Linked DNA regions of Homo sapiens: region 1 is linked to region 2. The links come from fine-mapping of genetic effects on gene expression. Tissue or cell type: whole blood. Region 2 holds a variant in brackets; the other region holds the start of a gene. Each region is shown on its reference strand, or each on the opposite one.

Region 1 (9,004 bases), not on the chromosome of region 2:
GAAGAGCACTGCAGATAAGGCAGTGAGAAAAATGGGTGAAACATGGAGTCCAGAGATGTGGGGATTAACCCCAGGCTGGAAGTAAGAGACGTAGTAACCAGGTGGACAGCTGACAAGCAAGCTAAGTATCAAGAATGGGAAAGAAAAGGCAGTAATGAGGTTTGGCCCCAAATGTCATTAGCACCAAAATATTAGTCAAACAGGATATGTTTCTGGTATGATGTGAACATAACCCTTATAGAATGTCCTCCTTTAGGTGTTAGTCCCTAGGGCCAGGCTCCCTCTGAGTCCATCTTGCTGTGGGGAATCACAGCCATCCTCAGAACCACAGGGCCTGTCCATCTGACCCCTACAATCAAGAACACGGAACTTGGAATATGCAAGCACCCAAGACCAGCCCAGAATGACTCTGCACATGATAGCCTACAGGAAAAAAAATAATAATACAAGGAGAAATTCAGAGGAGGATTTTGCAAGAGCCACTCGTAGTCCACATAAGTGGTGACAATGTCAGTGATGATAATTGCTGGCAGAGGCAGGCATGAGGAAGTGTCCCCTAGAGGAAGGAAGTAGAACCTGGGCCTTGAGGAGCCTCGAATCTGGACAATGTCACCTGGCCAGGAGAGGCAAACGAGGTGAGATCCATGAGGCCGACTATAAGAAGCCTAACTCTGAATCTTTCCACATGAAAGGGAAGCAGGTGTTGCTTGCTCAAGGAGAAAAGCAGGCAACATACAACCTTAGCCCTACCAACCGCAGCACCTGCCCAGGAACAGGAAGCTGTGTCAATAGTCCTCTTGTGAAGACACATCTGACTCTGGGGAAAGGGTAAGAGCAAAGGCTAGCTCGGGGCATAGAGGTGGGTGTGAGGACCTTACCCAGGGAGGTTGTAAGTGTCAAGTTCTCCAGCATCACATCGTGGTACAGGCATTTCTGAGCCTCATCAAGAAGACCCCACTCCTTCCAGGAGAAGTAAACAGCCACGTCCTCAAAGGTCACAATGCCCTGCCAGGATGGGGACACATGAAACCACAAACGGTTCCTCCTCTCAGGATCCATAATCCTTCCCCTCACACATTTACCCCATGCTCATCCTCTTTCCAAGCTCTCCAAGCTCCCCAGCTCAGAGGAGAAAGCAGTCAGCTGGTGCTGTTGTCTCCTAATGGGGCTCTTGGTCACTGGTTGCAGCCATCAGTAACAAGAGGCAGGTGAACAAATACATGTATCTAAGCTGTGGGCGTGGCATAAGGGCAACCACTCCTTCCTGACAAGCATTCCTCTCATATGACCAAGGTCATGTAAGTCTCAATCAGGACACTGGGGCCATCAGGCACACTCCCTCTCCAAGTGCATATCATTCATTACACTGCACATACCTCAGGTCTCCAGATCCCACTGCCACATGACCATGACCACCACTACGTCCTATACCACAGGCAAATCCTGGCTTCCCCACATGCTACCTGAGTGAAAGAGTAGATAACCTGGGCCGGGTGCAGTGGCTCATGCCTGTAATCCCAGCACTTTGGGAGGCCGAGGTGGGCGGATCACGAGGTCAAGAGATGGAGACCATCCTGGCTAACAGGGTGAAACCCCATCTCTACTAAAAATACAAAAGATCAGCCAGGCGTGGTGGCACACGGCTGTAGTACCAGCTACTCAGGAGGCTGAGGCAGGAGAATCACTAGAACCCAGGAGGTGGAGAGGTGGAGGTTGCAATGAGCCGAGATCACGCCACTGCACTCCAGCGTGGTGACACAGCGAGACTGCGTCTCAAAGAACAAAAAAAAAGAGTGGATAACCAACAGCCAAATATAAGACACGTGACATTGGACAAATGAGATCAACAGTTTATTAATTTTTTTTTTTTTTTTGAGACGAAATCTTGCTCTGTCGCCCAGGCTGGAGTGCAGTGGGGCAAGCTCCACCTCCTGGGTTCATGCCATTCTCCTACCTTAGCCTCCCAAGTAGCTGGGACTACAGGCACCCGCCATCACGCCTGGCTAATTTTTTATATTTTTAGTAGAGAAGGGGTTTCACCGTGTTAGCCAGGATGGTCTTGATCTCCTGACCTTGTGAGCTGCCCGCCTCGGCCTCCCAAAGTGCTGGGATTACAGGCGTGAGCCACCACGCCTGGCTGAACAGCTTATTAATTAAAGACAAATACTCATAGCCTGTGAAAGAATACCACACTCCACACAGGGCCATACGGAGGTAGTACTCCAGAAAAGAGTAACAACCAGGTGCTGTAGAATGTAAGTTTTGTAGCATCAAGATGGAGAAGCTCCACTGGTCCCCAGAGGAGGGGACTGGCTTGTTTGAATAACTCAAAAAATTGATAGGGAACTGAAACCCACTACAAAGTAATAAGCAGGAACTGTTCTGGTTCCCTGGATAAGAATGGATAAGAAGGGTTCATTTGGCTAAGAGAGCTTATTCATGGGAGCAAAGTGGGAAGGGGAATTTGTTCTCAGGCCATCTAAGGCTGTATCGTTTTCATCAGATGTCAAGGCGACATATCATACTGGGCCTTAATTTCCGGCCTTATACCGCAACTTGGCAGGCAGCATCCAGAGTGTGGATATAAACAGGATCCAAAATCCCAGACTTCCCACAGCTTACACTAGTGGAAGCAGCCTCAAAAATTTCTTTGAAGGCCTCCCTGCCAGGCTGTATTCCTTGCCTCAGACATAGCCACACAGAACCACAGGTGAATCACAGATAACCATGGCCCTATTCCACTTCTGTGCTGCACTTACCATCCCCTTGAGAGTCATATATCCACCTAAAGCTCATTTAAATCCCAGCCTCACTGGTCGTTCATCTCACACACAATGACTCTCACAAATGACCACATGACACTAACTTAATCTTCCAGCCTGAATGAAACACCCAGGCCCCATCAAGTTATCACAAAATCCTGGATACCCATAAAGTGGTGAATAAGCACGAGTTTTGGCCTGAGTGTCCTATGCGTTTGCATCCATCTCATGTCCATTCTTCTCTTGGGAGCCGTGGCCACTGCCAAACTACACTGTCTTTTACATACCTTGCCTTCATGACCACTTACTCTATCATCATCCTCCCAGTCTTGGCCCACTAACAGCTTTACAACCAAAACCTGGAGCTTGCCCCGCCTAACTGTGACCCACAGCTCACTAACCTTGGTGCGCACAACAGCCACATCTTGAATATCTGCACCCTGAACCACTCCCTAGATTTCAAGACCGGCACGTTCATCTGCCCACTTAACGCCTCCATTTAGTAGGCTCTGAAAGATCTGACTCTTAGCATGGCATAAACAAACCTGATATCCCTAGTGAATATTACTCCTATTGCCAATTTGTTCATCTTAGTTGATGAAACTTCTTTCCCTACAGCTGCTAATACCAAAAACCCTGGAGTCTTCTCTGAACCCTCTGTTTCACTCCCTCACCACCTACATTATGTAATTTAGTTGTCCCTTTTGAAACCACACATCCGGAATCTAACCACATCTCCTAAATCACGATCCTGGGCCAGTAACCCTCACTTGGACTAGTCTACCCTGATTTTCCTTCCTCCTCCCTCAACCCCCCAGTTTGTGCCCCACTGTGCACACAGATGAAGCCTGTGAAGACCTTGGTAAATTACCTCTTTTTTCTGATTCAAACTTGCTATTACCTCCTGAAAACACACTCAACTTCTCAGGCAGCCACTGCAGTCCTGACGCCTATCCTCCTGTTCTTTGCTTCCCACCAGAAAGCAAGGAGACTTGTGGCTTCATAAATGCACCCAGCTCCGTACTGCACCTAAGCATTTGCACATCTTGTACCTTTCTGGAAAAACTTTCCACACCCGTTCACATGGCTGCCAGAAATTGGAACAACTCTATATACCGGCTAACATGGACATAGGACCCTGGGCTTGGGGTTCACCCAAGGTCTTCAGAACTAAGGGCTGGGGGAATGGCACTCCACAACCCAGAGAACCTGTGGGTGGGAGTTAGGGCTAGTGAGAGACTGGGAAACCCTCCCCTTCCTGGCGTAGATTTCATAACCCTTTACAGCCAAGGGAAACGTAGAAAGAGCCAGGCCTCAGAGAAGAGCATCTATGGCGGTATTAGATGGGCTCAAGCCACCCCGTAGCCCCATGCCTGGCCTTGGAGCCGGGTGCCCTCGCAATGGCTGTGTCACCTCTGTGCCCCAGGGCTCAGTGGCGCCTCTCATCAGGGGCTCCTTGCCAGTCGCGCCCTCCCTTCCCTAGCACACCAGGTGTTGGAAACGGGAGCCCCTCCGGCGAGCCCCCGTGTCCTGTCCTGGGCAGCAGGGCCGCGAGCAAGCGCCCTCGGGGGTGCTAGGACTAGCGTGGGGAGGGCGGGGAAGGCCCAGAGGACGCGGCACATACCTGGGCCGGGGCCGTCAGCTCGGCCGCCGCCATCTGACTCTGTGAGCGGAGCGGGGCCAGAGAGGATGTCCTTATTCCGGGCCGGGCCTGGGTACCCTGGGCGCCGCCGAGCCTCAGCCACGCCTCTGTGCAGCGGGGAAGACTCCTCTCGCGCCTTCTCAGTCAGTCACGGATGATGCTGACCCAGCGCTCCGGGGCTTTCTACCAAGTAATCAGTCCAGACAAATGCCAAAACGACCGCCACAAGGAGGACAACGGAAGTCCCGCCGCGACCGCGCGTGCGCTTACGGAAACACCACCTTTCGGAGGCCTCATTGGCTGAAGGTCGCCGTCGCCCAACGCAGGCCATTCTGGGTAATGTTCCCACAGGCGCACGGCGGGAGAGTGAGGGTCGCCTCCACCTCCTTCCGGAAGTAAAGGCCAAACCCCTGTAGGGGGCGCTGGGAAATGGACACTCCAGGTTGGGGCGGAGGCGAGGCTTCGTTCTTTCTTAAAGGAGACGTACCCAGGTTTCTACCGATTGCTGTCTGCCAGTGTTTGTTTGGAGACGTGTCATTTCATGTGTTCCCAGAGGCACATATCCAGATGCACATATTATTACATACAGTCAGTCAGTCACAAAATATATCCACTGGTTGAGAAAGCAAATAAATATGACTATGTTGCGGCCGGGCGCGGTGGCTCACGCCTGTAATTCCAGCACTTTGGGAGGTCGAGGCGGGCGGATCACGAGGTCAGGAGATCGAGACCATCCTGGCTAACTCAGCGAAACCCCGTCTCTAAAATACAAAAAATACCACAAAAAAAAAAAAAAAAAGAAAAATTAGCTGGGTGTGGTGGCGGGCGCCTGTAGTCCCCAGCTACTCCGGAGGCTGAGGCAGGAAAATAGCTTGAACCCGGGAGGCAGAGCTTGCAGTGAGCCGAGATCGCGCCACTGCACTCCAGCCTGGGGGAAAGAGCGAGCCACTGTCTCAAAAAAAAAAAAAAAAAAAAAAAAAAAAAAAGACTATGTTGCAATTCAAACGCATGCACTCAAGCACTGGAGTCAGTTTTCTCAGTCTCTGTATGTTTGATTAGGGACAAGAAAAAAAACACTCCACACAGGTTCATGACAAAGAGGATGAAGGTGGGATGCGGAGGCACCCTGCAGCAGCAGGACATAAGTAGATCCCTGTCTCTGGGTCCCTCTCGTGCCTGTGTAGTCAAACATTGTGTCCAATTCACTAAGCAACACTTGCATGAATCTAATCTCACTTTCTCCATGCCTTTATATTCACTTCTTTTTAATAATTTGACATCAAGCTCAGAAAGAGAACAACAAAAGGAATGGTATTTTGAAAAGGCATGATGGCTAGCTAGAGCATTAACAGGTGGAACAAAGGGTGCTCTGAATCCCAAATGTAGGGTGTATCTTAAATTCAAGATCTCTTCTCAACGCTGAAATGATTATCTTTGCCCCCATTAGTTACGCTCTTGTTGCCCAGGCTGGAGTGCAATGGTGCGATCTCGGCTCACCACAACCTCTGTCTCCCGGGTTCAAGCGATTCTCCTGCCTCAGCTTCCCAAGTAGCTGGAATTACAGGCGCCCGCCACCGTACCCGGCTAATCTTTTTTTTTTTTTTTTTTTTTTGTATTTGTATTTTTAGTAGAGACGGAGTTTCGCCATATTGGCCAGGCTGGTCTCGAACTCCTGACCTCAGGTGATCCACCCACCTCGGCCTCCCAAAGTGCTGGGATTACAGGCGTGAGCCACTGTGCCCGGCCCTTTGCCCCCATTATTATAGGGCTGTTCTGCATAAAAAATTGATACGATATCAGAAAAAGAATTGTAAAATACAAATTACAGAAAGCTACTAATAATGGGTGTCGCTTCGCCAGCCAGAAACCTCTGTGGTCGCGCCTCTGCTTGAGTTTTGCTCACACCCGCTGGGCTTGTTCCACCCACTCGGCCCAGCAGGCTGCACCTGGATCCCACACCTACCAAGGGCGAGCCAGGCGCGGAGCCGCAAGGGGTGTGTGAGCGAGCAAGTGAAGGGTCCAGCCAGTGCACACAGCCAGGCACGCTGGCTGCTGCGGCGGGGCGGGCAGCTCCAGGCGCTGGCACAGGCGCCGGCTCCTTGCAAGTCTGCGACTGGACCAGACATACTGCAGGCGGCTTCTGCTGCAGGCACCAGCATCTAGACGAGGGAAAAATGGTGGCGCCGGAAAGCTCGGAGACACCAAGAACAGCAGAACCCCAAAGAGGGTGTTGCAGCATGTCACAGCCCTGGCTCCGGAGTCTCGAGGCCTGGGCTCCCGGAAGAGCCACAGCTCTTCTCTCCTTCCCGTTGCTTGCAGCCTGGCAAGCGGGGAGGTGTGTTTTGGGTGGGGTGTGTTTTCAGCTTGTTTGTGATATAGCTCTTTCAGTCCCGCTGCCCTGCTCTGGCTCGCTGCTGCTTCCCATCGTGGGGGGCGGCCACCCAGTGCTGGCTGAGGGCAGGAGGGCTATAGTGTTACAGCTCTGGCTCGGGGAATCCCAAAGTCTGGGCCTCCAGAAGAGTCGCCATTTTTCACTCATGCAGCCCAGAAGCATGGCTACTCAGCCAGGAATGTGTTACAGCCCCTTTCTCTCCTGCTGTTCGTTAGGTCCCAAGTTCTTGTCCCCCAAGTTCTTATCCCACGTCCAGGAAGAATGAGGTTATGCAGACAACTGGAGGGTGAGCAAGGCAGAGAAGGGTTTTATTGGACAACCCAACAGCCCTCAGGAAACCTGAAGGGAGTAGCTCACACCTGCATACAGATAGTCTCCGATGTCTGAGTCTGGCTGAGTCTACAGGTTTTTTATGGGCTCAGAATGGAGAAAGTGTGTGCTCATTGGTCCATGGGTGGTAGGAAGTGCATGCTGATTGGCCCATGGGCAGTCATGGGCGGGCCTGGGAAAAACACCATACCATTGGCCGAAAGGCGTCAAGGAATTTCTCTCTCTGGGTCACAGACTCCACCTGGAACTGGCAGCGTGGCCTCCAGGCTTCAGGCCATTCGTGGCTTGAAGGTGGGGTTTCACAGAAAACCCACCCCTTCCCACGTAGGAACCTGTCTGCCTTTCATGGCCATCAACATGCTGTCCATGACGCCCAGGCTGTCCATGCTGAAGGTTGCCCGCAGGCCTGCCCCGAGCCACTCTCAGCCGCCCCCCTCCCACCACCCGGCCTCCTTCCCATGCTTCTTGGTGCCCAAAGTTTCAGCCTCAAAAGCAGTTTCTGGAGGAAATCGAGATGGTGGGGGGCTGGCATGTCGTCACTGCCCCGAGGGCACACACATTTGGCTGGGTTGTGATAGCGCCCAGGTTTGGCTATCTTGACATGTCCACAACTTTGCTCTGCCGTGGAGCAGGTGCTGAGAGTGGGGAGAGGCCAGGGAGTGGGAGCAGGCACTTCTGGGCCTGTGGGAAAAGGGTGCTTCCCAGGTCCCCAAGAGTGCAGGGATGCCCTGTCTGGAGCCACGACTAGGTGGCTGCAGCTGCGCCTGGGAGCACAGGGCTCCCGTCCTGACAACTCGGTATGGCTCGAGGCTCCCACTGGGATCACCTGTTCCCAGTCCCCGTGGGCTCCACGGAGCATGCAGCCCTGGCCGTGCCTCCCCATTTGCAGCCGGCATCATCACAGCGGCCCCTCCAGATCAGCCACTGCTGCCATTATAATGACTATGTAGTCATTCAAAAATGGTGGCAGAATCGTGTTTGGGAAATATCGGATGGTGAAAAAAGTGAAGGTCTCACAGAACTCTTTTGTTTTGGTTTTTGTTTGTTTTTTGAGACGGAGTTTCGCTCAAAACGGAGTTTTTGAGTCCAAGGATGTGAACTTGGACTGGGAGGTGTGCAGGAGGGGTGCTGAGTACTAGGTCTGCGTGTCTTGTTCTGGTGGCTGTCTCAAGCCATGGTCCACCTGGAGTGTGGGCTAGCTGCATCTCAGTAATGGCCTGGTGGTTGACTAACTGCCTTGAAGTAATCTCTGGAATTTTGCAGATAGGTCCCTATGCCTACCAAGTCTGTCTCAAGATTATCCCCAGGAACTTCTAAGTAAGCACATAATTAGATACTAGCATACAATTAGACAAATGTGCATGGTCTAAGGGAGTGTATGGTGAGAAGCGGTGGACATGGTATTTCAAAGAAAGTACATTTCAAGGCTGTATTTTAAGACTAATGAGAAGAAAAGATTCTGCAGTAAGGTTCAAGGTTATATCACAAGACTAGGGAAAAATGAGAAAAAGGAAAAAAACTTTTTCAGGCCAGGCTGTTCAGTTACAAAACTAGTTTTAGAGTTGCAGTGTGTCCTGTCAGCAGCCATTAAATAAAACTTGTTTCAAGTTACAGCAGGGAGTTTCAGCAGCCAGGCTTCTGGAGAATTACATTTTTGGATCAGGGTTATATGCCCTGAGTGCTTTTTTTCCCACAGCTCTTTCAACTCTGTTTTAGGTGGGTATGACAAGAATGACCCAATTCATATGATCAACTTTCACACAATTAATAGGGATCCCTTCTAAATTTGCTAAATCTGCAGGATTTTTGAGTTTCGACTGGGGGGAAAACCCACCAAATCTCAAATCAATACATGTTTATTTTCCTAATACAAAACAA
Region 2 (9,004 bases):
TTTGATTTGGGATGGAGAGTTCTGTAGATATCTATTAGGTCTGCTTGGTGCAGAGCTGAGTTCAATTCCTGGATATCCTTGTTAACTTTCTGTCTCGTTGATCTGTCTAATGTTGACAGTGGGGTGTTAAAGTCTCCCTTTATTATCATGTGGGAGTCTAAGTCTCTTTGTAGGTCTCTAAGGACTTGTTTTATGAATCTGGGTGTTCCTGTATTGGGAGCATATATATTTAGGATAGTTAGCTCCTCTTGTTGATTTGATCCCCTTACTATTATGTAATGGCCTTCTTTGTCTCTTGATCTTTGTTGGTTTAAAGTCTGTTTTATCAGAGACTAGGATTGTAACCCCTGCTTTTTTTTGTTTTCCATTTGTTTTGTAGATCTTCCTCCATCCCTTTATTTTGAGCCTCTGCAGGTGAGATGGGTCTCCTGTATACAGCACACTGATGGGTCTTGACTCTTTATCCAATTTGCCAGTGTATGTCTTTTAATTGGAGCATTTAGCCCATTTACATTTAAGGTTAATATTGTTATGTGTGAATTTGATCCTGTCATTATGATGTTAGCGGGTTATCTTGCCCGTTAGTTGATGCAGTTTCTTCCTATTCTCGATGGTCTTTACAATTTGGCATGTTTTTGCATTTGTTCCTGGCACCAGTTGTTCCTTTCCATGTTTAGTGCTTCCTTCAGGAGCTCTTTTAGGGCAGGCCTGGTGGTGACAAAATCTCTCAGCATTTGCTTGTCTGTAAAGGATTTTATTTCTCCTTCACTTATGAAGCTTAGTTTGGCTGGATATGAAATTCTGGGTTGAAAATTCTTTTCTTTAAGAGTGTTGAATATTGGCCTCCACTCTCTTCTGGCTTGTAGAGTTTCTGCTGAGAGATCCGCTGTTAGTCTGATGGGCTTCCCTTTGTGGGTAACCCGACCTTTCTCTCTGGGTGCCCTTAACATTTTTTCCTTCATTTCAACTTTAGTGAATCTGACAATTATGTGTCTTGGAGTTGCTCTTCTCGAGGAGTATCTTTGTGGTGTTTTCTGTATTTCCTGAATTTGAATGTTGGCCTGCCTTGCTAGGTTGGGGAAGTTCTCCTGGATAATATCCTGAAGAGTGTTTTCCGACTTGGCTTCATTTTCCCCGTCACTTTCAGGTACACCAATCAGATGTAGCTTTGGTCTTTTCACATAGTCCCATATTTCTTGGAGGCTTCGTTCATTTCTTTTTACTCTTTTTTCTCTAAACTTCTCTTCTAACTTCATTTCATTCATTTGATCTTCAATCACTGATACCCTTTCTTCCAGTTGATCGAATTGGCTACTGAAGCTTGTGCATGCATCTCGTAGTTCTCGTGCCATGGTTTTCATTTCCATCAGGTCATTTAAGGACTTCTCTACACTGGTTTTTCTAGTTAGCCGTTCATCTAATCTTTTTTCAAGGTTTTTAGCTTCTTTGTGATGGGTTCGAACATCTTCCTTTAGCTCGGAGAAGTTTGATCATCTGAAGCCTTCTTCTTCTCAACTCATCAAAGTCATTCTCCATCCAGCTTTGTTCCGTTGCTGGCAAGGAGCTGCATTCCTTTGGAGGAGAAGAGACATTCAGATTTTTAGAATTTTCAGCTTTTCTGCTCTGGTTTCTCCCCATCTTTGTGGTTTTATCTACCTTTGGTCTTTGATGATGGTGACGTACAGATGGGGTTTTGGTGTGGATGTCCTTTCTGTTTGTTAGTTTTCCTTCTAACAGTCAGGACCCTCAGCTGCAGGTGTGTTGGACTTTGCTGGAGGTCCACTCCAGACCCTGTTTGCCTGGGCATCAGCAGTGGAGGCTGCAGAACAGCAAATGTTGCTGCCTGATCATTCATCTGGAAGCTTCGTCTCAGAGGGCACCCGACTGTGTGAGGTGTTAGTCGGCCCCTAATGGGAGGTGCCTCCCAGTTAGGCTACTCGGGAGTCAGGGACCCACTTGAGGAGGCAGTCTGTCCATTCTCAGATCTCAAACTCCGTGCTGGGAGAACCACTACTCTCTTCAAAGCTGTCAGACAGGGACATTTAAGTCTGCAAAAGTTTCTGATGCCTTTTGTTCAGCTATGCCCTGCCCCCAGAGGTGGAGTCTACAGAGGCAGGCAGGCCTCCTTGAGCTGTGGTGGGCTCCACCGAGTTTGAGCTTCCTGGCCACTTTGTTTACCTACTCAAGCCTCAGCAATGGCGGGCGCCCCTCCCCCAGCCTCGCTACTGCCTTGCAGTTCAATCTCAGACTGCTGTGCTAGCAATGAGCGAGGCTCCATGGGCGTGGCACCCTCCAAGCCAGTTGTGGGATATAATCTCCTGGTGTGCCGTTTGCTAAGACCATTGGAAAAGCGCAGTATTGGGGTGGGAGTGACCCGATTTTCAAGGTGCTATCTGTCACCCCTTCCCTTGGCTAGGAAAGGGAATTCCCTGACCCCTTGCAATTCCCGGGTGAGGCGATGCCTCACCCTGCTTTGGCTCACACTCGGTGGGCTGCACCAACTGTCCTGCACCCACTGTCCAACAAGCCCCAGTGAGATGAACCCGGTACCTCAGTTGGAAATGCAGAAATCACCCATCTTCTGCATCGCTCATGCTGGGAGCTGTAGACTGGAGCTGTTCCTATTTGGCCATCTTGGAACTGCAAGCCTACATTCCTAAAATTGGATTTTACAAAGAAGTGCACAGATGGGCTCAGGAGAAGTTTTGGGAACTTGAGTAAAGTTAGTTCAAGGAAACAATCCTTGTCAGTTATATTGATGAAAAGAGTCAAATAGGCCAAGTGCAGTGGCTCACGCCTGTAATCCCAGCACTTTGGGTGGCCGAGGCGGGCAGACACTTGAAGTCAGGAGTTTGAGATCAGCCTGGCCAACATGGTGAAACCCCATCTCTACTAAAAATACAAAAATTAGCTGGGCGTGGTAGTGCACGCCTGTAATCCCAGCTACTAGGGAAGCTGAGGTAGGAGAATTGCTTGAACCCAGGAGATGGAGGTTGCAGTGAGCCGAGACCGTGCCACTGCACTCCAGCCTGGGTGAAAGAGCAAGACTCCATCTCGGAAAGAAAAAAAAAAAAGAAAAGAGTCAAATAAGTCTCAAATATTTGAAGATATTTATTCTGAGACAAATATAAGTGACTGGCCAGGCATGGTGTCTCATGCCTATAATCTCAGCACTTTAGAAGGCCTAGATGGGAGGATAGCTTGAGTGCAGGAGTTTGAGACCAGCCTGGGCAACATAGTCAGATATCATCTCTAAAAAAAAATAAGCAAAATTAGCTTGGCATGGTGGTGCATGCATGTAGTCCTAGTTACTCAGGTGGCTGAGCAGGGAGGATCACTTGAGCTCAAGAAGTTGAAGCTGCAGTGAGCCAAGATCACACCACTGCTCTCCAGCCTGGGTGACAGAGCAAGACCCTTTCTCAAAAACAAACAAACAAATACGAGTGACCGTTGGTCTGTGACACAGCCCTTGGGAGGTCCTGAGAACATGTGCCCTACAACTTGAGCTACAACTTGATTTTATACCTTTTAGGGAGACATAGGACATTAATCAATACATGTAAGATGTACATTGGTTTGGTCCAGAAAGGTGGGACAACTGGGAGTGGGGTTTGGGGGTGGGTATCTTCCAGGTCATACATTTTAGAAATTTAAAGATTTTCTGATTGGCAATTGGTTTAAAGAGTTATTATCTAAAGACCTGGAATCAATAGAAAGAAATGTCTGGGTTATGATAAGGGGTTGTAGAGACCAAGGTTTCATCATGCAGATAAGGCCTCCAGGTATCAGGCTTCAGAGAGAATAGATTATAGATGTTTCTTATCAGACTTGGAGTCTGTTCTATCAGTCTTAAGGTCTCTATGTTTATGTTAATGTTGGTCATGTGTGAGGCATGTCTAACACTTACCACCCTCCACTTCCCATCATGGCCTGAACTAGTTTTTCAGATTAATTTTGGAATGCCCTTGGCCAAGAGGAGGGTCCATCAGTCAGTTGGGGGCTTATAATTTTATTTTTGGTTTACATTAA[A/G]AAAGTTAGATCTGGCTAGGCACAGTGCCTCATGCCTGTAATCCCAGCACTTTGGGAGGCTGAGGCAGGCAGATCACCTGAGGTTGGAGTTTGAGACCAACCTGACCAACATGGAGAAACCCCATCTCAATTGAAAATACAAAATTAGCCAGGCATGGTGGCACAGGCCTGTAATCCCACCTACTCAGGAGGCTGAGGCAGGAGAATCACTTGAACCCGGGAGGCAGAGGTTGTGGGGTGAGCCAAGATCATGCCATTGCACTCCAGCCTGGGCAACAAGAGCAAAACTCCATCTCAAAAAAAAAAAAAAAAAAAAAAAGAGAAAGTTGAATCTACCTTACATGAAGTGTGAGTTATGATGGATATTATCAGCCCCATAGTTCCACCCCTGAGAAAAGCAACAAAAGGAGGTTGTTAGCTAAACCACTGTTTTGTTCACCCAAAGACTCAAACTGAAATATTTATCTTTTCCTCCTGTAGTAAAGGAAGTGGTGCATTTCATAAGACCAATCTTCCTGTTGTTTTACAATAATGTGTCAACCTTAAATAAAAAGATTTAGAAAGTATGATTACCTATAGAGTTTACTAGAGCTCAAAGATTGAGGATGGCCACCCAGGAGCATACATTCAAGTTGCCCTGAATATACACTTCAATTAGCAGTAGTAACAGTGGGTTTTTAAAGCAGAAAAGAAGAGTCAGTTCCTAAATTATTTAGCAAGTATTTACATTAAAATAAACTACTGATTGTCTATACATTTTTCTTTGTATCACAAATTCTAGGAACATGAAGATAATGGCTTAGGTAGCTAGTCAGGCATAAAATGCCTTTTAAATAATTGCCCCAGGCTGGGCATGGTGGCTCACACCTGTAATCCCAGCACTTTTGGAGGCTGAGGCCGGCGGATCATCTGAGATCAGGAGTTCGATACCAGCCTGGCCAACATGGTGAAACTCCATCTCTACTAAAAATACAAAATTTATCTGGGCATGGTGGTGTGGGCCTGTAATCCAAGCTACTCAGGAGGCGGAGGCACAACAATTGCTTGAACCCAGGAGGTGAAGGTTGCAGTGAGCAGAGGTTGCACAACTGCACTCCAGCCTGGGTGACAGAGTGAGACTCTAACTCAAAAAAAAAAAAAAAAAAGTAAAAGACTTAATTTTTTTTTCTGTGGAAATAAGGGAAGGCACAGCTCTGACCTCTCCTTTTTCTTTCAGAATTTAATCCTCTGTCCTTTTCAAATGTATGTTACATCTTTATAATGGCTAAATAAACCTCTTCTCAGTCTCACAATTTAGGACCTGGGAGTCATGTTTCAAAATGCGTATTCAAGGGAGACAGCTCTCATAGTTCTTCTGGGAGGGTAAGAACTGAATTTTGGTGGGCAGGGTGCCTTGGCCCAATCTTCAAAACTATATCCTTATGAAAAGATTTAGGGAGTTTGCTTCTTCTCACTTGGATAAAACCAATTAGCTAACACTGGTGGTCCTCCTAACAATTATGCTAAACTTAAGATGAACTATATGTGACAAAATATGCTGTCAAGTTTTCTTACTTGAAGCCTATTTTTGTTTTTCTTGAAAACATGCATGTAATGGGTTGCATCTGCTTGTCAGTATAAAGGGGTGAGATTCCTTGTGTCTTTTCAATCTCTTAATGAGTCGCCTATGATGTCTATCACATTGTGGTTTAATGCTCATTCAATAATGAAACTGTTTTCTATCTCTACTACCATTGTGGAGAGGATTTTGGGGTTGGGAGATTTTTTTTTTTAAGAGAGACAGGGTCTCACTATGTTGCCCAGGCTGGTCTTGAACTCCTGGGCTCTAGTGATCCTCCTGCCTTGGCCTCCCAAAATGCTGGGAAGATTTTGCTTTTAATTGTATTTTCCCAACAATAATATACCATTTCCTAAGTCCTGGAGCAATCAGGTAATAGAAGACACCACCTTCAGGCAGAGAGAGGAGGAAGCAGCCAAGGTATTACAGAGCAATGAATTTTGCAAAGCATTAAACCACAGTAAGTCCTCATTTAACTTCATAGATAGTGTCAACCTTAAAATAATGAGATTCAGAAAATATGATTAAATATAGTTTATCTGATCTCAAAGCTTAAGGATGGCTACCCAGGATCATAGATTCAAGTTGTACTAAATGTACACTCTGATTAGCAGCAGTTACAAGTGGCTTTTTAAAGCAAAAGGGAAGAGGCAGTTCATACATTTTTTACCAAGAATTTACATCAAAATAACATATGCTATTGATCGTCTATACATTGTTCTTTGTATCTCAAATTGCAGGAGCATGAAAATAATAAGTGAGGCACCTAGTCATGAGAACAAATGCTTTTAAACAATTACCCCTTGGCAGCTGGGCACGGTGGCTCACATCTGTAATCCTAGCACTTTGGGGGGCCAAGATGGGTGGATCACGAGGTCAGGGGTTCAAGACCAGTCTGACCAACATGGTGAAACCCTGTCTCTACTAAAAGTACAAAAATTACTGGGCGTGGTGGCAGGCGCCTGTAATCCCAGCTACTCAGGAGGCTGAGGCAGGAGAATTGCTTGAACCCAGGAGGCGGAGGTTGCAGTGATCTGAGATCACACCACTGCACTCCAGCCTGGGCGACAGAGCAAGACTCGGTCACAAAAAAAAAAAACAAAAAAAAAAAACACCCCTGGGCCTGGGTTGGGGAGCAATGAGAATGGGGGTATATGTGACCAAAGTCCCATACTCATGTTTCTCTGGGCTTAAAAATTTTGCAAACCTCACATAACTGAGACTGCTCTGAGCTATTTTTCTTTCCTCAATAGGTTATTGAAGCTGTGACTTTAAGCTAAATAATGCATAATAAAACCAAATTTACCTTAGGCTAATTGATATAAACAAGAGTTAAGTTCCTAAGGCATATTTCCAGTAACGAAAACATTACAAAACTTCTAAATAAAGAGAAAAAACACATCTAATATTAAACACTGAAATAAATGTGAGCTATACATACATTTTTAAAGGATTAATAAAAACAAGATAATTGCCCAACTTTTGGTGAATCAGTAAGTGATGAAGGTCACAAGCGTGTTGGGTTAAATCAAGAAATAAACGTTTGCAAAGCAAAAACTGTTAAGTTTTTGGAAAGGGGTTACTGGAAAGGGGTCCCAAACCAGACCCCAAGAGAGGGTTATTGGATCTCATGCAAGAAAGAATTTGAAGCGAATCCAGAAACTGAGAGCAAGTTTATTAGAGAAGTAAAGAAACAAAATAATGGCTACTGCATAGGCAGAGCAGCAGCTTGGAATGCTCAACTGATAATACTTATAGTTATTTCTTTATTATATGCTAAACATAGGGTGGATTATTCATGAGTTTTCCAGGAAAGGACAATTCCCAGAACTGAGCGTTTCTCACCTTTTTAGACCATATAGGGTAACTTCCCAACATTGCTATGGCATTTGTAGACTGTCATGGTGCTGATGCGAGTGTCTTTTAGCATCCTAATGCATTGTAATTAGCATATAATGAACAGTGAGAATTATCAGAGGTCAATTTGGTCACCATCTTGGTTTTGGTCGGCTTCTTTATCACATGCTGTTTTACCAGCAATGTCTTTGTGACCTGTATCTTGTGCCAACCTCCTATCTCATCCTGTGACTAAGAATGCCTAACCTCCTGGGAATGCAGTCCAGTAGGTCTCAGCCTTATTTTACCCAGTCCCTACAGAAGATGGAGTTGCAGGCCAGGCATGGTGGCTCACGCCTGTAATCCCAGCACTTTGGGAGGCTGAGGCAGGTGGATCACCTGAGGTCAGGAGTTTGAGACCAGCCTGACCAACATGGAGAAACCCCGTCTCTACTAAAAATACAAAAAAAATTAGCCAGGCATGGTGGCCTATGCTTGTAATCCCAGGTACTCTGGAGGCTGAGGCAGGAGAATCTCTTGAACCCAGGAGGCAGAGGTTGCGGTGAGCTGACATCGAGCCATTGCACTCCAGCCTGGGCAACAAAAGCAAAACTCTGTCTTAAAAAAAAAAAAAAAAAGATGGAGTTGCTTTAGTTCAAATGCCTCTGACATAAACAGCACTTCCTCCCACCATGCAGTTCAATAACAATCACAAACATGGCAGGCTCATTGAGCGCTTTCATACCACATTGTTTATGGTCATACATTTTGTATGATCACTGTATAATTTACAAATTTTATTTTACAATAATCTGTATTAACTCTTTCATTCATTTTCCAATCTATTTATTCCACCAGTTCAGGGTCAGGTATAGCCAGAGTCTATCCAGCAGCTCAGGGCATAATGCAGAAACCAGACCTGAACAGAACATCATCCTACTGCACAGTGCCCTCACACACACCTGAATTAACTCTGATTGGTACAATGTACACATGCCAATTAACCTAATGTGCACATCTTTGGATTGTGAAAGGAAACTGGAGTACTAAGAGAAAACCCACACCCATATTATTTGAGTACCTGCTGTACAGCACAATTCTTTTGTTTGGCCTCTGACTGTCGTTGTCCAAAGACTTTCATTTCATTAAAGTTTTAAAAAGCAAAAAAGGCCTGGCCTTCAACAACCTTTGCAAAATTATGATAGTAAAAGAAGTCTGACATGGCTGACTCCATCTTGCTTCTAAACTCTAAGCTGTCTATGCTTATTCCTCAGTGTAGCCTAAGCTAACAATGGGAGGAATTTATATTTTAACTTAAAAGCAAGGACAATAATAGTTCCTCTCTAAAACTAACCTCCTCCTTGTTCACAGATTGAAAACCACATTTATAAGATTGATGAAAGGCCACAAGATTAGGATTATGGGAGGGGCCTGAATTCTAGTATAGTTTCTATAATCCCTTGTTCCTCAGGAGTCATGTGGCCACAGGATTTATGACTTTCCCAATTGCTCCTATAGATAACATCACTAAGATTTGTCTTTTGAGATTTTTTCAGACTTTCTGGCAACCAACTGATCCCA

The links. PIP is the estimated chance that this variant, and not a neighbour inherited with it, causes the effect. A credible set is the group of variants that fine-mapping cannot tell apart.
Region 1: ZNF256 starts here. The variant in region 2 is the best candidate, but not a certain one, in a credible set for the expression of ZNF256 in whole blood (TOPMed, PIP 0.66).

The regions. Positions count from the first base shown.
Region 1 is chr19:57,943,056-57,952,059 of GRCh38, forward strand. ZNF256 (zinc finger protein 256) reads right to left here and starts at 4,651. Exons shown (of 3, transcript NM_005773.3): 1 at 4,387-4,651; 2 at 879-1,005. The coding sequence starts at 4,419. RefSeq lists enhancers at 4,060-4,139, 4,630-4,729, 4,800-4,889.
Region 2 is chr3:101,538,686-101,547,689 of GRCh38, forward strand. No RefSeq gene overlaps it. Among named protein-coding and RNA genes, the nearest start is that of TRMT10C, 19 kb to the right of the region's middle. The variant A/G (reference allele first, on the strand shown) is at 4,030.